Linked DNA regions of Homo sapiens: region 2 is linked to region 1. Evidence: fine-mapped expression QTL. A gene starts in region 1. The other region holds a variant in brackets. All regions are shown on one strand. Distances are from middle to middle.

Evidence for each region. PIP is the estimated chance that this variant, and not a neighbour inherited with it, causes the effect. A credible set is the group of variants that fine-mapping cannot tell apart.
Region 2: its variant is the best candidate, but not a certain one, in a credible set for the expression of TXNDC12 in tibial artery (GTEx, PIP 0.60).

Annotation. Positions count from the first base shown.
Region 1 is chr1:52,052,858-52,056,857 of GRCh38, forward strand. TXNDC12 (thioredoxin domain containing 12) reads right to left here and starts at 2,334. Exons shown (of 7, transcript NM_015913.4): 1 at 2,143-2,334. The coding sequence starts at 2,239. It overlaps BTF3L4 (basic transcription factor 3 like 4), which reads left to right and starts at 3,438. Exons shown (of 6, transcript NM_152265.5): 1 at 3,438-3,522. RefSeq lists silencers at 2,358-2,762, 3,623-3,862 and enhancers at 2,928-3,641, 3,642-4,000.
Region 2 is chr1:52,481,807-52,486,337 of GRCh38, forward strand. TUT4 (terminal uridylyl transferase 4) reads right to left here. Exons shown (of 30, transcript NM_001009881.3): 10 at 1-117. Among named protein-coding and RNA genes, the nearest start is that of TUT4, 69 kb to the right of the region's middle. The variant A/G (reference allele first, on the strand shown) is at 2,522.

The DNA.
Region 1 (4,000 bases):
ATGATGCCCATTTTGCAGATGAGGAACGGAGGCTTTGAGAGTTAAGAAACTTGCCCAAGGCTACTCAGCTAGTGAGTGGCAGAACAAATTAAAACTCAGATCTAGGCCTGGCGCAGTGGCTCCCGCCTATAATCCCAATACTTTGGGAGGCCAAGGAGGGAGGATTACCTGAGGTCAGGAGTTTGAGATCAGCCTGGCCAACATGGTGAAACTCCATCTCTACTAAAAATACAAAAAAATACAAAAAAAAAAAAAATTAGCTGGGCATAGTGGCACATGCCTGTAGTCCCAGCTACTTGGGAGGCTGAGGCAGGAGAATCATTTGAACCCGGGAGGCAGAAGTTGCAGTAAGCCGAGATTGCACCACTCCACTCCAGCCTGGCAGAGTGAGACTCCGTCTCAAAAACAAAAGCAAACAAACAAACAGAAAAAACAGCAAAGAAAAAACTCAGATCTAAACCCACGTACCCAACACTCTACTCTTCTGTTACTCTCAGTACTTACAACTTTAAATATACAGTAGCTGGCTGGGCGCAGTGGCTCATGCCTGTAATCCCAGCACTTTGGGAGGCCGAGGCGGGCAGATCATGAGGTCAGGAGTTTGAGACCAGCCTTGCCAACATAGTGAAACCCCGTCTCTACTAAAAATACAAAAAATTAGCCAGACGTGGTGGCAGGCACCTGTAATCCCAGCTACTCGGGAGGCTAAGGCAGGAGAATCGCTTGAACCCAGGAGGCGGAGGTTGCAGTGAGCCAAGATCATGCCACTGGACTCCAGCCCGAGCAACAGTGTGAGACTCTGTCTAAAAAACAAAACAAAACAACAACAAAAAAAAACGGTAGTCTGTTTTAAAATGGGATTGTCAGTATTTAAAACATTCTGGCCTAACAGGATTTGTCATGCAGTTTCATCACTGAGATGGAAACCCACATATCACCTTCTCCAAAAAGCTTCTCCTGACCTTCATAATTCAAGTGATGCCAGCTCCACCAACCTCCCCAGCCTTTCTACTTCCTATTCCATCACAGTCTTATTGTTTTCCCAGCACTTGTTCCTAGTTGAAACTGTCTTATTAATTTGTTCATGAGTCTACTCTGTCTCTCTGACATGAATATAAGCTCCACCAGAGTAGGAACCTTGTCTGTCCTGTTTACAGCTATATCCCTAGTGCCTAGGACAGTGCCTGAAATATAGGAGGTGATCAAAAATTATTTACGGAATGAAGGAATGATTGCATTCAGGCAAAATGAATGCCCACCCAATCTTATTACTCACCAATAGATGTGAAAATAGAGAGGATAAGAGAAAACAAAAACAGAAGGATTGCAGCAGAATCATTCCATACAGTAAGGTCAGTGAAAAAAAAAAAAGGAAGAGGGGTTGGGATCCATGCTACAATTCATCTACTTAGAAAAGCATAAACTCTGAGTTCACAGACTGTCAGTCCAACTTTCAACTAAGTAAGGGCTGATGAGGAGAGAGGTGTTAAAACTTAGAATGGAGATGTAGGTAATGGATGGAGTAGGGGGCCACACCTCCTAACCTCCATTCATAACCACTGATCGCTCACTTACAAAAAAACTTCGCTGAACCACAGCAAGGACAATTGTTGGGGACCCTTAAACAGCAGACCTTCTACCATTCGCTTGGCTCTTCTTATGCACTAGATACAGCTACCTGGGATGCAGGTGCTGTTTCCCAAAGGCAAGCAAGTGGCAGTAACCTAGCTCTTCGCGGAAGAAGTAACGAGAGAAATCTTCAGACCCAGAACAGGGTCCTCTGCATATGCAGGTCCCCAACGGCTCTATTTCTCCCAGGTGGGAAGGTGACCGTTCCTCAGGACCTCCCAAGTGCTAGGCACTATGCTGGGCTCTTAACATGCTTTCCTTAATTTACGGGCCATTCCTTCCCCCCAATCCAATAATTTAGAGAGGCCTCAAGTACAACTTCTCCATTCCCCAGACCCGCTACTCTCTACCCCAAGAAATCTTCAAACTCCAGGAGCGGTTGGGGAAGATAAAAAGAAATCTGGAGTGGCCTAAGAGTTAGAATGGGAGGGGAACGGTGCTAGGGCAAGAAGAGATTATACTGGGATCAGTATAGTAAAGATCAGTAAAGAGAAGATAAGAACGCGGTCTGACCCTTTCCAAGCCCATTATGTCCATCAGAAGAGATGACGAGGAGCAGGAAACTGAAGCCCAGCAAACAGGTGGCCCCGAGACGAGGCCGCGTCTCCATGGCAGTAGGTGCGCGGGGCCACGGGGCTGAGCGGACGCAGGGCCGGAGTCCCAGCAGACGGTCCACACAGTTCGCCGAGCGCCGCTCAGCACAACACCTCTACTTCCCAGATTTTTTTTTTTCAAACTCTGAAGGAAGTGATGTTAGACGGATGTGGGTGGTGCCTCCGGGGTCCGGTTTGGGATGGAGTGAGCTTAAAGGTGCAGATCACGTAGAAGGGTACGAGAGCTGTTCTCGAGCGCGAGTTGCTTTTCGTGGATTCTGGGTGTCCAGGTCCCGGGACGGAGCGGGAAAATGTAGGCCAAGATAGTAGGGGCGGGGGAGAGGTTCGGGAGAACCGTTGCTCCTCGCGTCCGCCACCCAGTCCAGCCCCTCCCCCCAAGAACCGCTGCACTTCCTAGTCAAAAGCAAATTATTGATTCGTGAGGTCAGTCGCTCCCAACAGTGGGCGGATTGCCCACTGGCCTCGGATTCTCCTTACCCCTCCACAAATCAAGACTGGACAACTGGATTTCATTGTTAGGTTCCTGCGAGGGTCTCTGAGGAGACCTGGCAAGCCTGTTCTGCGGTGCGTGGGCTCGTGCCGTGCAGACATGCACTTTCCCGCTGGAGAAGCTCTGTACCTTATTTTTCCTTGCAACCGCAAATCTTCTACTCAGGGATGATGCAACCAACTGATGCAAGCTCCAAGAAAACCAAACTTGGGACCTCTTATTGCAAAACTGACTTAGGTGGACTTAGGACACCAGGATATAAGTCACTGCAGGCTAAAGTGTAAAGCTTCTGGTTATTTTTCTTGTAGCTTGAGGATTTCTTCCCAATTTTTCCCCTTCGCTGTATAACAAACAGGTGAAAATGTCCGGTCTTTTTCTTCCTGGTACTAGTTGAGTCCTAAAGTCCGTACTTAATGCATAGCGAAAAAGCGACCTAACAAAAGTACACACCCAAATAAAAACATACCGACCACCCTTTTATTAGGTTCCCTAAAATTGTAGGCAGGGACACAACAGAACGCTCGGGAGACTGCAAGCCCCAGGATGCCGCGCGGCCACCTGCACCTGCCGCCACTAGCACTAAGAGGGATGCGCAAAGCAGGCGGGGCGTTGGAGTTCAGATGTTCGCTCCCGGGATAGGCTGCCCCGGAGAGGGAGAGGCGGGGTCGGCTGTATCACGTGGATCTGCTCCCGCCGCCGCCGCCGCCGCCGTCGTCTTTCTCTGTCTCGGCTGAGGCAGCCATCTTTCTCTTGCCGCGTGCTGGTGTTGGAGGACCCTCCCTGCTTCAGGTGAGACCCCCGGCGGTCCCGCCACTTCACGGCCATAGGCCGCTGCGCACGGTCTCCCCCCGCCCTCCCCTTCCGACACCCGCCAACCGCTCAGGCTGCCACTTCCGCCGTGGTGCGGCGAGCGGGGGCGGAGGCGGCTGGCTTGGCCTGTCGGTTACCGGCGGCGCAGCTGGGGGTCGGCACCTGTGGGAAGGTCCCCAGCACCACCGCCCCCTGTGGGAGCGAGCGGGCCCGCCCTGTTGCCGCCCAGACCCTGTCCCAGGAGGCAGGTGGACGCCCCTCCTCTGTTCCATTACTCCTTGCTCACAACAGCAGTGTTGTGTGCTTTGAGCTTTATACAGGCTCTCTGTTGTCATCTCATTTGATGCTCCCAGTCTACAGATAGGGAAGCTGAGGTTACCACTTCCCGCCCTTGAGTCCAGGGAACCGAACTCAGTTACAGCACTCTTCACCTTGTAATGGCAGTGTTTGTTTACAA
Region 2 (4,531 bases), 430 kb after region 1:
ACTTCCAAGTAAGCAAGGAAGAAGAGGGGGTTTTCTCTGTTGTAGAAAAAACATCACCATTAAAGCAAAACAGTAAGAAGGGATTCCACCATCAGTTTGGGAGTCAATATAGCACAACTGCAAAATGAAGGGGAAAAAAGTACTACCATTTAGCTTTCTTAATTTTCATGATAAAAGTAGCTTGCTTTTTCCTACCCTAATCATTGTAAAAAGTTCAAATGACAATGAAAAATATAAGGAATAACTTGAAATATCATCACTCTAAAATAACCATTAAAATGTTGATGATCATTTTTTTCATTCTTTTTAAAATTCATACAAAGATACATATTTTTGTTAAAAGGAATAATATTACATGTAGTTATTTTACTGTGGACACATTTTAAAAATATTTTTTCATCTTGCCTCTACTTCTACTTCAATTAACAACCTTCTATGTCTTCTTCTAGGCCTTTTTCTATACTCATATACAAATACACATACATTTCTATTTCCTATATAGGTATAGGGAGAAGTTTAAGTTTTTCAACATTATTTTACCAAAATAGTATATTATAGACATCTCTCTGTATATTACTCTTCTCCCTTAACAATATATCAAGAAAGTCCCTTTAAGTCAGTTAGCAAGATCTAACACGTTATTTTATTTTTGAGACAGGGTCTTGCTCTGTAGCCCAGGGTGAAGTGCAGTGGCATGATCATGACTCACTGCAGGCTCAACCTCCCAGCCTCAAGTGATCCTTCCACATAGCTGGGACTACAGGCATGCACCACCATGCTCAGCTAATTTTTTTTATTTTGTAGACTATTTGTAGACAAATTTTACTTACGTTGCCCAGGCTGGTCTCGAACCCTTGGGCTCAAAAGATCTCCCCGCTCGGCCTCCCAAAGTTCTGGGTATTTATAGGCATGAGCCACCATGCCCAGCCAACACATTCTTTTAAATGCTTAAATTATAGTCTATGATATGGATGGTTACGTAACAGTTCCCCCATTCAAGAACATTCACATTTTGTTCCCAGTTTTTGCCACTTCAAATAATGCTGTAATGTTCATCCTTATACATGTTTCCTAAGTATTGGTGCTTATTTCTATGAGCTGTATGCCTAGGAATGTTTGTTAAATTAAAAAATGAGTGATATATTTTAATCTTAAAATATATTGTTAAGAATCGTTTTTCCAAAATCACTACAAAAATTCGTATTTTCCACTAGGAACCCAGGTGTGTTCACCCCTTCGAACACTAGGTATTATCCTGTGCATACACCCCTTCAAACACTAGGTATTATCACTTAAAAAATAATTTTCAATAATTTTCAATGGGATGGGTGAAATGTAGTATCTGATGGTTACTTTAATTTGCATGTCCTTGACCCTAAAGAGATTATGAAATTTGTGTATGTTTACTAACCATTTGGGATTTATTCTTTTCTAAATTGCCTATTAAATATTTTGCCAGTTTTTCTATTTTCATCCAATACATCAATTTATAAGAGTTTTAATTATAGATAATAACCCTTTACGTCTGATATATGCATTTGAAAGATGTTATTTTTCCCAATCTACTATTTTTCTTTTGATATTATTTATATCTTACCATATAAAATTTTTTATTTTCACTATGCTTTAGTTTAAATATGCTTATTTCAGACACTCAGCCCTCCATATCAATGGGTTCTGCATCTGCACATTCAATCAACTGCACACTGAAAATATTTTTTAGGCCGGGCACACTGGCTCATGCAAGTAATCCCAGCACTTTGGGAGGCAGAGTGGGTGGATGACTTAAGGTCAGGAGTTCGAGACCAGCCTGGCCAACATAGTGAAACCCTGTCTCTACTAAAAATACAAAAATTAGCCAGGCACAGTGGCAGGCACCTTTAATCTCAGCTACTCGGGAGGCTGAGACAGGAGAATCACTTGAACCCAGGAGGTAGAGGTTGCAGTGAGCTGAGATTGCGCCACTACACTCCAGCCTGGGCAACACCCCATCAAAAAATTTATATATACATTTTCTTCATTAAGTAAAATTATTTATTTATTTATTGCAAGGTGTGGTGATGGACACATATCACCTGCAGCTGATGTAGTCCCAGCTAGCTACTCAAGAGGCAGAGGCAGAAGTCCAGGAGTTTGAGTCCAGCCCAGACAACATAGCAAGACCTCCGTCTCTAAAAATATATATAATTGAAAAATTTGTTAAACGCCAGGTGCAAAGGCCTTGCCTCTTGAAAAAGCAAAACAAAACAAAACAAAAATATGCCAGGCACAGTGGCACACACCAGTAGTCCTAGCTACTCAGGAAGCTGAGGTGGGAGGATCCCTTGAGCCCAGGAGTTCAAGGTTACAGTGAGCTATGATGGCACCACTGCACTCTGGCCTGGGCAACAGAGTGAGACTCTGTCTCTGAAAAAAATTAAAATGTTAAATTTTAAAAACTAAAAATAGCAATATAATAAAAAATACAAATTAAAAAATACAGTACAACTATTTACAGAGCATTTATACTGTATTAGATGTT[A/G]TAAGTAATCTAGTGATGACTTAAAGTATGTTAGAGTCTATGTGAAGGTTAGATACAAATAACACACAGTTTGTATAAGGGACTTGAGCGTCCTCAAATTTTGGTATCCTTGGGGGTCTTGGAACCAATCCCCCTACCACTGGATACTGAGGACAACTATACACCTTCTAGGTATCCTATCATAGTAAAAGATCTCCCCATCCCATTATTTACATATACATACTCCTACATTTTTCTTCTAAAATTTTAAATTTTCATTTAAGTAAAATTTATTTTTGCATTTAGCATGCTGAGTCCAACATTATTTTCTTCCAGTAAGATACAGTTGTGAAAGCACTATTTAATAAAATCTGTACACTAGATCATCTGAGCATTCTATTCTGTTCCACAGATCTATTTTTCTATTTCTATGCCAATAGCATACTCTTGATTAAAGCAGTTTTACAGCCTTCCTTTTTGCTCCTCCTGAGTTCATTCCCACCTTGGAAGCTTTGGACTAACTGTGCCTTGGAGAGTTTTCCATCAGATTTTCATGTGGCTAGCTATTACCCGTCTGAGCTTAAATATCATCTCTTCAGAGTCTTTTCCTGACCATTCAGAGTAATGTCATTCATTCTATCATTTCATTTTTGTAGCACTAAGCTCTAGCAGATATTATTATTTATGTATTTCTTTACTGTTTGACTCTTCCAGAAGTATGTGAGCACCATGAAAGCAGGACTCTGTATGTCCTGTTAGATGTTCCCAGCCTCTAGAACAGTGTCTGACACACAGAAGGCATTTAACGAATGTTTGCTGAATGCATGGATTTGTTCAGATTTTGCTTTCATCTTTCAATAATATAATTTCTTCTTATATCTTTGTTATTAAATCTCTTCCTTAGTGTTTTATAATTTATGTTGCTGTCATAAAGGTACACATTTTTCCCCATTTCCATTCTAACAGGCTATTTTTATGGCAGAGAATGGCCATTCACTTTTGTATATTTATCTTGTATTTAGTTATCTTACTAAATTCTCTTATTAATCCTAGTAGTTTTTTACTAGGGTTTTCTAGGTGTACAATCATATCATTCGCACAAAGAGATAATTTTATACTTTTCCCAATATTTACATTCAATTATTTCATTTTCTTATTGCATTTCCTAAAATCCCAAAACAATGTACAACATCAATGGTGAACTTCTCTGCAATATTCTTTATCTTAACATATATGGCTTAAATGATGTTTCTTATTGTTTTGCCTTTGTTTTTTGTGTGTTTTTAATAAATGGTTTTCATCATAAACTTCCATTTCTAGCTGACTTAAAAGTTTCTGTTAGGGAGAACATGCCCTTTCAGCATCTAGGATTTTTTTTTCTGCTTCATGTGTTAATATAATAAATTATGTGAACAGACTTCCTGATATTAAACCATTCTTATAATCTTGAAGTAAATCATGCAAGATCATGGCATATTAACCTTTGATACATGGATATATTTCATTTGCTTATATTTCATTTAGATTGTAGCATCTATATACGATTGGTCTATACTGGATTGGTTGGATTCATTTTTAAATCATTGTTTTCTTCTGTAGACAATGAAGATTTAGGATAATAATAATAATATAGAGTAATTATACCGTAGCATAATATCTTGGTACATTTAAGATTGCAACTCAAAATAAAAGACAACTAAAAACACTTGTCAAAAAAGAATTTGAAACATTCCACTAGAATAAACTCTCACTTATCCAAAATATTAAGACAAGGGTAAACTGCCTAATGAATAAGTCAACTTAACCAAAAATTCCTTTGCAACTATAAAGAACTGTCAATATATTCTGCTAACATTACCAGACATCTCACAGATAAACAAGATTAAAGCAGTTTAAGAGAGAGCTCTTAAAACCCAGATATCTCTTTCAGATGACAAATAGTGCTAAAATGCAATTCTTACATTAACCACGACAAGTGGCTCTAAGTCAGGTAACTTGACTAATAATGTACTGATGATAAGGCTAAAGAGT